Regions from separate parts of the Homo sapiens genome. Here region 2 is linked to region 1. Evidence: fine-mapped expression QTL. A gene starts in region 1. The other region holds a variant in brackets. All regions are shown on one strand. Distances are from middle to middle.

Region 1 (5,369 bases):
CTCAAAAAAAGAAAAAAAAAATTATTGAGTACCTACAGGACTTGATAGTCCATAATATCCAGTCAGTTGTCATCTTTAAATATGTGATTTTTTCCTTAAATCTTTAACTTTTTCAACAGCAGTTACTTGACTATCAAGAAAAGATCTTGATTTCAAATCATCTGCAAGATTTCATAATTCACTTTTCATGAGGCACTTAAAGTCATTTGGGGTAGCACCAAATTAAGTTGTTACTCTACATTCATTTAGTAGGTATTTATTTTTTTAAATAAAGAAAAACGAGTCAGGTTTGCTACAGAGATGAGTTGTAAAGTCTGAGCCAAATTATTCGGCAGTATCCAAACACCTGGCTGCCACAAATGACTACTTTAATGTATTTCTAATGAGGGCTGGATTCAGACCAAGATGAAGACACTTAACCCATTAAGTAAAATTTCTTCAAGTTTTCTTAAAAGATCACAAATTTGTAATATTAGCATGAAGGAATAAGCCAAATAACTTCATTTTTTTTTTCCTAACAGAAATGTTAGCTGCATATCAGACCCAGAAAATACAGCAAGTTTTTTGGCTGGGCGCAGCGGCTCAGGTCTGTAATCCCAGCACTTTGGGAGGCCAAGACAGGAGGATTGCTTGAGGCCAGGAGTTTGAGAACAGCCTGGGCAACACAGGGAGACCCCTATCTCTACAAAAAAAATTTTTTAAATTATCTGGGTGTGGTAGTGCGAGCCTGTGGTCCCAGCTACTTGAGAGGCTGAGGTGGGAGGATCCCTTGAGTCTGGGAGATCAAGACTGCAGTGAGCCATGGTCACACCACTGCACTCCAGCCTGGGTGACAGAGCAAGACCCTGTCTCAAAAACAACAGCAAAAAAACCACCCAGAAGACAACAACAAAAAGAAAATATAGCATTTTTAAAATAGTGAGCTCTATGCTTTTAAAACTCCTCAACTGGAGCTGCCTAAATGAAGAATGGGCCCTTTACAAATCCCTGTCTCTGGAGGGTTTAAGCTGAGGTTAGATTGGTCCTGGGATTCCTGCAGTGGTGAAAACGCTCTGCCTCCAATGCTATGACAAGAGGACTGCCATGCACAATCATGAGTGTAGAAGAAAAGGCAGAGTGAATGAAGGCTAACAGTGGCACCTCACCTCTCACCCAATTCAATTGTGTAATGCAAACCTTGATGCACATAGCAAATTGGAATTCAGAACCCACAAGTCTAACTCCAGAGTAAATCATTTGTTAGGTTAACAATTACTCAAAACATAAAACTACATATTTTCAGAGCTGAGGGAGACCTGGCTCTACATCCTCATTTATATTTGTCAGCAATAATTTATTGAGCACCTACTAAATGCCAGACCCTGTGCCGGATCCTTTCCAGGCACAATTTCTTATTAGAATTCATGTGCCTTTTCTAATATTATCCCTATTTTGATGGAGGAATTTGAGACTCAGAATGTCCAGCAAATTGCCCAAAGGTCACAGGAAATGGCAGAGGCAGGATTTGAACCCACACTCCACATTCATTACCACCACAGAGCATCACTCCCATTTCATAGATGACCTGGGGCAGGCTAGTTATGGACAGGTTCCAGCAGATTCCAGCCAGTAGACTTTCTAGTACTCCAGGCAGCGTTTTGCTACACATCACAGAAGCAGCTGCAATGACTGTTGAGGCTGCTCGGCTGGCAGAAATGGAAGGAAAAAGAAAAGGAAGCAGCTGACCAAATGTTCCTTCTGACTGACCATGGAACTGCGAGCTCTCAGTTGTCTGCCAGCTTCCGGCTGACCAACAGAGAGAAGCATGTCCACCATGAGAGAGTAGCAGCCACCACACAGTCCCTCTACATTCGTTCATCCTGACTCCAACCAAGCCAACACACACAACGCAGTAGGATCTTCCCTGCACACCTTCTCAGTGCCTTAACTTGCCACCACAATCACACCCGCAGCTGCCTTCCTTCCTGATAGACAAGGTGCTTGCCCATGAGCACTTCATCAGTGATTAAACTCTGCTCAGACATGTTTTGACCACAGCTGCGCGTGCAGTCCACGTGCAGTAAGGCCTGCTGTGTGATCTGTGAGCCCCCATTTTTAGCAGCCAGGTAGGAGGCTTCCTGAGGGTCACTCAACAGTCCTTGGGTAGAAGCCACGGCAGGTGCAGACAACCGGACAGCTTCCGTGTTTAAGGATATCAACACTTAACACAGGGAGGCAGGCGGACTAACTTGCACCTGCACCTCCAGAAGGCAATGGAAAGAAAACAATTCCACAGGGATGACAGCTTCCAGCCCTTGACCTGGTGCTAAAAACAGGGGCCAGGAAGCCCAGCACAGCACTTTTCCCTACTCCCCAACACACCCCTGCCTACTCTCCAGATCAGGACAATTCAGGCCTGAGTGTGACCCGAATTTGAGCTCTCAAATCCAAAGAGCTCCCAGAAACCTCAATCACAGCGCCAAAACCATTCCATACCAGGGATGGAGGTGCAAGTCCTTCCTGGCCCTTCTCCCCGGAAAACCCAAATCAAGGACGAGGTCTCTCAGGTCTTCCCTTGCCCTAAACACACACGCACTCCTCACACACAACATACACACTTGACCCCACACCCGTGCACACTTCATCCCACACACACGTGAACACTTATTTGCTCACCCCAGCAGGCTAGCCGGCCCCCACAAGGGACAGCTACCAAGTCGCACACCCGCACACCTGCCCCCAAGTGTATAGCCACTTGCTCCCCCCACCCCGCGTTCCAGCCCCCACTACACCTGCCCCAGCGCACACGCACGGGCTCGCCCTCCACCCCGCCCCGCCGCCTACCCCCCACTCCTGCTCCCCGCCCTCCTGCCCCACGCGCCCCGCGCCCTGAGCCCCGCACCCCGCGCCCCGCCGCCCTCCTCACTCACCGGCGCCGGCGCCCGCCGTCCCGCGCCGCCCCGCGGCCTGGGGCCCCGCCGCCCCGCTCCGGCCCGCGGCTCCTGGGCTGGCCCGACCCCGCAGCCGCCGCTTCCCGTCACGTGGGGCGGCCGCCAGGCGCTGGCGGAGGGCGGGAGCGCAGCCGTCTCCGCGCCGCCCGCCGGCCCGCGGGCCCTGCCGCCTGGCTCCGAGCACAGGCCGAGACGGGCCCTGCTCCGGGCCTCGGCGTCCCCCTCCGTGCACCGGGGCCACGACACGGCCCGCCTCGCGGGGCGGCCAGCGGGCGGAAGGTGTTCATTCGGGGGGCGCTGAGGCCGCCGGCCCCGGGCGAGAGCGTGGTCCGCGCCAGCTGTGCGAGCCCGCGGGGCTGAGGTCTCTTCTCCGCCCCCGCCGCTGCGGGGAGCTTCAGGGAAGCCGGGCTTTGCCTGGCTCGCTCGCCACCCAGTTTCTGTCACCTACACAGGAGGAGGGCGCCCGGGAAATACCTGCTGCGTGAATGAATAAATGAATGAAATGCTTGGGCCCTGGGAAATGCTTGGGCCCGCGGCCGCCTGACCACGCGGGCTGGAGGATCGGACGTACCGCCGGTGCCCCACCAGGAGACGAAGGCATGGTTGGGATGCGCAGCCCTCCCACGAGGCCCATGGCGCCCCAGGGCCCTAGGGATTGACCGGGACCCCCGACTGGCAGAGTCCACCTGCTTGATACACTTATTTGAGAAGGGAGGCCTGGGACTATCTTACTCCTTTTAGGAAAACCCAACTGTAGCTGCTATTCCTTTGGTTCAGGCCGCAAGGAAGAATTGTAGGTTACCATGAATCCATGAACCCCTCTTTAGTATACAAAGTCCACTTTCATGACGGAAGAATTGGAAAGCTCCCTCCAGAGTTGTCAGTACTCAATTATTAGCATATAAAAAGTCAAATTTTCCCAGGGATTTTCAGACTTTAGAACCTGCTAGTGACCTGTGGCCTCAGCTTTCTTCCAGCCACTCTGAGTATTGTAAAACAAAGATATTATCCCAACCCTGAAGGCAGATACCAGATTGTACGCCATGGTCTTCTGTTTCAAAGGGATAAAAAAAGAAAGAAAAGAAACTGGCCAAAAAAAAAAAAAAAAAAAAAAAACCCAACAATCTTCCTGTGACTTGCCCTCTACCCCTACCCTAGTGTGACTCATGGCCACATAAATGCCCCATCCCCAGTGGTGCTTCAGCTGTGACCCAGTGGAACCAGTGTCACCGGCTCAGCCTCCAGGTAGGGGACTGGCTTCCCAGGAGTGTAAAGCTCTGACCAGCAATTGAGCTTCAAGGGCAAGCAGCAGTGAATGGACCTTCAAGTCTAAGGTGGCCAACAGCTAGTGGAGCCAGGGATTGGGAAGGTACAAGAGCAAATCCAGTCTCTTCATTTTACCCAGGCTCACAGAGACTATGTGACTTGTCATCAACTAATCACTGGCTCAGGTGGTCCTAGAATTCACCCTTGTGCTTTTGTATCTTAGTCCTCTACCAGATCACATCACAGAGAGCTGCACAAGACTAGTTACAGAGGTGATATCTACTGACTGCCAGACAGTGACTTCAGAAACTGCTAGTGACTGAGCAATGAAGTAGACGCTATTAATTTACTTAATAGCGTCAAAGAATAAATTTAATTCTTTGAGGCAAAGAAAGGTGAATGACTTCCTGTGTTAATTCACTTAGGAAAATATAAATAAAAAAATTTAAAAAGGTGACTTGTCCCAAACCCCATGCTAGTAAGAAAGAGCAACAATAAGAATCCAGAATTCAGCAACAGTAATTCTTTTTATATAAAGTTGTTTTGAATGAATAGTTTATGAACAATCTTTGTGTTCTACTTTAGATGATCCAGGAGTGAAAATGTATAACAAGAGATAATTCAGATATATTTATTTTATGAAAGGATTTATTACAGGATTCTTACAATGGCAAGCTCCATATTATTCCATCTAGAAACATCTGTTCCTTCTGAAACTTGATGAGAAGTCTGTGTCACAAATGACAGGCACCTCCATGTAAATGCCTGTACCATAAATGTGCAAATATATGCACAGGCCAAATTCCTTATGTTGTTTCTATTGGTTACATTTAAGAAGAAATATCAACCATATGGCTTTCAAAACAATTATTAACTTCATTTTTAAATATTTATTAAATATTCCTTGGGCCCATACCGAGCGTTACTTTACAGAATGTGAAAAAGATGTGCTCCGATGAGAACAATTAATGAAGACTGAGTTGCATCGATATAACTGAATATTTTCATAGTTGCTGTCTACTCTCAAAACTTAGTATTTTTATGCTTACACATACTCTGTGCTTCTCACTTTCTCGCTGGGTATACGCTTGGGAGGGCAAGGATTGTGTCTATGCTCTCTGCTGTATCTTTCTGCATGTAGAAAACACTCAACCAATTTTTAAAAATTCTTGA
Region 2 (5,369 bases), 49 kb before region 1:
TGTGTGTGTGTGTGTGTGTGTGTGTGTGTGTGTGTGTGTGTGTGTAGTTCAACAACAACAAACAAACAACCAAAGGATTCTCATTGCTGTATATTTACTTATGGTACTAAAAATATATGCTCTATCAACTTCCAAAAAGAATCTGATTCCAATCTAAGATGAGCTGAAAAAGTAAACTATGGAAAAATCACAGCTGGAGTTGCTTTACAATTTGCTTCAAATATTAATATAATTTCATATGTCTTTGGTCTACTACTATTAACCCACATGAGGTACTAGAAGAATATGCAGAAGCTACTTTGCCTAAGCAGAGACTGAGAAGGAGGGCAGGGGCTCTGAACATGAGGAACAGCAGGAAGTGCTAGTGTCCGGGACTCGCAGACCACAGAGTCAGGGAGCGTCCTGGGGGAGAGTGCCCAGAGTTCAAGAACCTGGGTTTCAAGTCCAGCTTCATTATTTATAACCCGCGTGACCTTGAGCAAGTAGGTTAACTTGCCCAGCCTCTAACTCCTCACCTATAAATGGAAAAGATCGGCAATAGCATTGGCATTGCCTGGGCAGTGAGCCCTCAGCACCCTCCCAAAGTCTGCAAGGGTGCCACACTCCTGGTCCTCCTTCCCAGCAGGAAACTGGAGTAAGTTGACCAGTGAGGGGTCAAGCATCTTCCCTCCAAGGGCACACTCTCAAGATATTGAGGCATCTGCTTGAATCCTTCTCTTTTCCTCAACCTTTTGGAAAGTCATGCTGACTCTACGGATCCCACCATCCCTTGTCACTACCATAAGGTGGCAGTGTGTTTTCTGGCTCCTGAAAAAACTAACACTGATTCCATAGCATATCCGAGTGGCTGATGGAAACTGCTGAAAAGGCCAATACCCACGTGGAAGGCTCTGACATCTCAGATACTAGCACAGTGACCCCAGGGTCTCTGTGGGAGTTCATCCACGCTTTTGTCATTTCAAATCCTTAACGAAAATCATAGACCGAAAAAATCTTATCCTGTAAATGGAGCTGAGGGATCACCCAACCCCTCTCATTTTTAAAGATAAGAAAAGTGAGGCCTAGAATGGTTGGGCTATGTGTTAGCTGCCCAGAATGGAGAAGCTGCTGGCCCCAACTAAGCCAGGCACTATGCATTAACAGTCCATGATACATAAGGCCATCTACTAACTCATGCACATAAGGAAGGCAGAGTTTTTTGTTTTTTTGAGACAGGGTCTAGCTCTGTCTCCAGGCTGGAATGCAATGGTGCAATCACTGCTCACTGAAGCTTCAAACTCCTGGGCTCAAGCAATCTTCCTGCTTCAGCCTTCTGAGTAGCTGGGACCACAGGCGTGAACCACCACACCCAGCTAATTTCTTCTTAATTTTTAGTAAAGACAAGATCTTACTGTGTTGCCCAAGCTGGCCTCAAACTCCTGGGCTCAAGCAATATGCCCACCTCAGCTTCCCAAAATGCTGGGATTACAGGCATGAACCCCCATGTCCAGCCAAGGAAGGCAGAGTTTAAAACCATACCATGTATCAACAAAATCAAGAAGCCTCCCTTTGAATCTGTTTATCTAGCTATCTATTCAATTCAGTTGTCAGTAACTAAAATGCACTGTAAATTTTACCAATAAACATGTGGCATCTCCCACAAGTGAATACGAGGCTGACTACAAAGGAAATTGAAAAATAACTTCATGGCTGGGCGCAGTGGCTCACCCCTGTAATCCCAGCACTTTGGGAGGCCGAGGCGAGCAGACCACCTGAGGTCAGGAGTTCTAGACCAGCCTGGCCAACATGGCAAAACCCCGTCTCTACTAAAAATACAAAAATTACCTGGGTGTGGTGGCGTGCACCTGTAGTCCCAGTTACTTGGGAGGCTGAGGCAGGAGAATTGCTTGAACCCAGGAGGTGGAGGTTGCAGTGAGCTGAGATCACACCACTGTACTCCAGCCTGGGTGACAGAGCGAGACTCCGTCTCAAAAAAAATAGTCATTAAAAAAAAAAAAAAGAAAGAAAATTAACTTCATTTACTCACAAAGCATATTACTAGTTCCAAACTATACTCCAAATTATTAAAGAATGGGAATGAGAACAAATGCCCTCCAAGACCCCTTCAAGGGGTCTGCAGATGGTGGAGACAGAGAGGGCATCTGAGGAGCACATGCATCTGCTGTCACTATGATTTCGTGGCAGTCACCTATAGGTACTTGGGAACATAAACATCACACTGGCTAAGTCACTTCACGAGGATCTCCCCAGCAAAGAGCCTCAGTAAGGGTGCAGGGCGGGAAGCCCTGATCATATCAGGAAGGGAACACTCACTTTTTGTGCTTCTCTAGCCAGGCAGCACTGTCCGTCAGAAGACAGAAGTTCTCAGTGACCAGGAGGTCCAGCAGGCTGTCGTGGTCAGCCTCTGCATACAGTTTGAGCAAGGCTGTGTCGATGTCCTCCTTGTAGCCATTTGCTACCTCTGTGCTGCGGACCTCGTTCAGGTAGCTCATGAGGAAGCGTTTGCACTTGGCCATCTTCTCCTGGTCCCCCTGGGTCAGCTGGTTCAGGTCTGCGTACTCATGAAGAGGAGGGTGGGACCGGGTGAAGGAGGAGGAGGTGGGCAACAGGAAGGGGTAGAGAGAGATCAGCTCCCGGACATCAAGCTGGCCGCTTCTGCAATTACAGTGTCAAACTAAATGAAGCAAAAAGAGAGAAGAGTACACATAGGCACACAAAACAGCACTGGAGGGGAG[C/T]GCACGGTGGCACACGTTCACAGGGGGCTGGGGAGCTGGGGACAGGGTAATCATGTCAGAGCAACCGTTCTAATCTGAAGTGCAGCAAAGCACCATCCAAGTGGGTGCTGCCACCTGGCTCCAAAAAAGAACAGAAGGGACGAAGGTGAAAGACACATACAGAACTGGTGTGAGAGTGGAACACCAAAATGCCTATGATGAAGAGAATACCCAGCTGAGCCTGGAAACCAAGGCAGAAAAGCAACACCCAGGATAACACGCCATCAGAGTCTGCGCAAAGGCACCATCACAGCTCTGCTGAAACCAGCATTTTCCTGGCACTAAATTACAAACAGATTTGTTGAATGGTCCTTGAAGAAGGGACTTTATAAAAACAGTAACTTACAACTTCCTCACCAACATCTCACAACAGAAGACACAGAAATATTCATGTGGCCATTTCTGTGGGGACTCTCGTAGAATTTCAGAGCCTAACATTGTAATGCAACAAACAGTTCCTTTCCCATCTCCTCTCCGGAACCTCCTTGTCCTGGCTACAATCAGAGCAGGAGCTGTGGATCTCAAACCTGGCCCAGTGTCAGACCCAGCTGTGGAAAACCTCCTGAGGGAACAGAAGCAGGGGCCACCCCACCCCAGACACATGGAATGGCGAGGAAGGACCCAGGATCCATGCTGCCTGCGATGTTCAGAGCATCCTCCTTCATCCAAGCTCTGATCAGCTGTCCTCCTCTACTGGCTTCCACCTCTGGCTGCCCTTCCTTCCACTTCACTCAGCCTCTCCTGACCTCCAGTGATTTGTATAACCCACAGGATAAATTTCAAATCTCTTAGTATGGCATTCAAGGCCCTTCCCAAACTGATCTCAAGCTACCCTACACCTTCAGCCTCAAGCATCCCTCCCACACCCCAACACTTCTACTAGACCCACTTATGTTGCCAGTTTGTACATTTCATGACTCTCAGCCTTTGCTGTGGTTGTTTCCTGGCCTAAAGCAGTGGTTCTTGGTGAAAAGCAATTTTGTTCCCTGGGGAACATGTGGCAATGCCTGGAGACAATTTTATCATGACTGGGGCGGGGGTGTGCTATGGCATCTAGTAGGTAGAGGCCAGGGCTGCTGCCATTAAACACCCTGTAATGCACAAGACAGTAACCCCCTGCCCAAAGAATTATCTGGCTCAAAACGTCTACAGTGCCACAGCTGAGAATCCCTGACCTAAAGTACAATTCTTGATTTGAGAAATTTCTGCTCATTGTTTAAGATCCAGGACGAATCCAGGGAAGATTCCTCCACTGGCTGATGTGAGCCCATGCAACGCTCCCACAGCAGAGCAGCACCTGTGCTGCAGGAAAGGCACACATCCAGTTTCCAAGCTAGAATGGGCATGCCAGAGAAGCAGGCACTGGGTTACCCTTCCATCCATTGCTCAGATGCTCAGGCCACGTTTGCTGAATGAAAGAAGAGCTGAACCTAGCTGATACAACGACAGGGTGCAGGTGGTCTAAAGGAAGAGACACAGAGCCCACATCCCCAGGTTATGTATGATCAATTTTCTCTTAAGTTTCAACCATAACTAGCTGGTAACTGTGGCCTCCGGCACGGCACTGAGGAGTCAGAGGACGGGTCCAGTTCAACGAGGAAAAGAAAATCACAATTTATTAGCAACATTTGCTGTGAGCACAGAAAAGGAAGTGGAATCATCTTTGTCTTAGAAGTATCTTCTTCAAATATCAATTCTCAGGCTGGGCCTAGTGGCTCATGGCTGTGATCTCACCACTTTGGGAGGCTGGGGCAAGAGGATGACTTGAGGCCACGAGTTTGAGACCAGCCTGGGCAACACAATAAGATCCCATCTCTACAAAAAATAAAAGATTAGCCAGGTCCCGTGGTGGCATACACCTGAAGTCCTAGCTACTCAGGGGTCTGAGGCAGGAAGATCATTGAGCCCAGAAGGTCGAGGCTGCGGTGAGCTATGATTGCACCACTGCACTCCAGCCTGGGAGACAGAATGAGATGCTGCTTCAAAACGAAAAAAAAAAAAAAAATCCGTTCTCTCAGCCACACTTTGGACCAAAGACGAGCAGCAATTTAAAGTTAAGCCATTAAGAGAGTGAGGTGCGGAAGTACAGGAATGTCATCCTAATAACAGGCCCCACATCTATTCTCTTACAAAATCCGAGGACTCTTCTAGGAATCCATCTGTGGACAATCACCTAATGTTTCAGATTAACCCATAAGAGAAAGAAGACACCTTGGGATACACCCATGACCCCGGTGAGGAGGTCTTCAACACTGTAGGGCTAACACAAGATACGGCAGAAAAGAGCCTAGGTCCAAAGGGGCAAAAAACTGACTTAAACCCTGAAGCCACGGGTCTTTCCAAGAACAGAGAACAGCATGTAAGAGTTGTACAAGAAAAAGTTATATGGGGCATCATTATTCAAGGAATGATTCCTCCTTTACTTAGAAATCCATTCTCTACAACCGATTGTGTAACTGTAATCATTTTCAGTAATGCCATTCTTCAAATATCCAGCATAGAGTGAAAGATTAGAGCCACCGTGGATGTAAGGACGTGGCTGGTCATGGGCAGACCTCCTACAGAACAGGCAAGGGAGGCATTCTGCTCAAGTCA

The links.
Region 2: its variant is fine-mapped to the expression of TGFBRAP1 in whole blood (TOPMed, PIP above 0.99).

Annotation. Positions count from the first base shown.
Region 1 is chr2:105,326,716-105,332,084 of GRCh38, forward strand. TGFBRAP1 (transforming growth factor beta receptor associated protein 1) reads right to left here and starts at 3,020. Exons shown (of 12, transcript NM_004257.6): 1 at 2,910-3,020. It overlaps C2orf49-DT (C2orf49 divergent transcript), which reads right to left. Exons shown (of 2, transcript NR_187479.1): 2 at 4,814-5,369. RefSeq lists a silencer at 2,905-3,334.
Region 2 is chr2:105,278,069-105,283,437 of GRCh38, forward strand. TGFBRAP1 (transforming growth factor beta receptor associated protein 1) reads right to left here. Exons shown (of 12, transcript NM_004257.6): 6 at 2,314-2,655. Among named protein-coding and RNA genes, the nearest start is that of GPR45, 39 kb to the left of the region's middle. The variant C/T (reference allele first, on the strand shown) is at 2,736.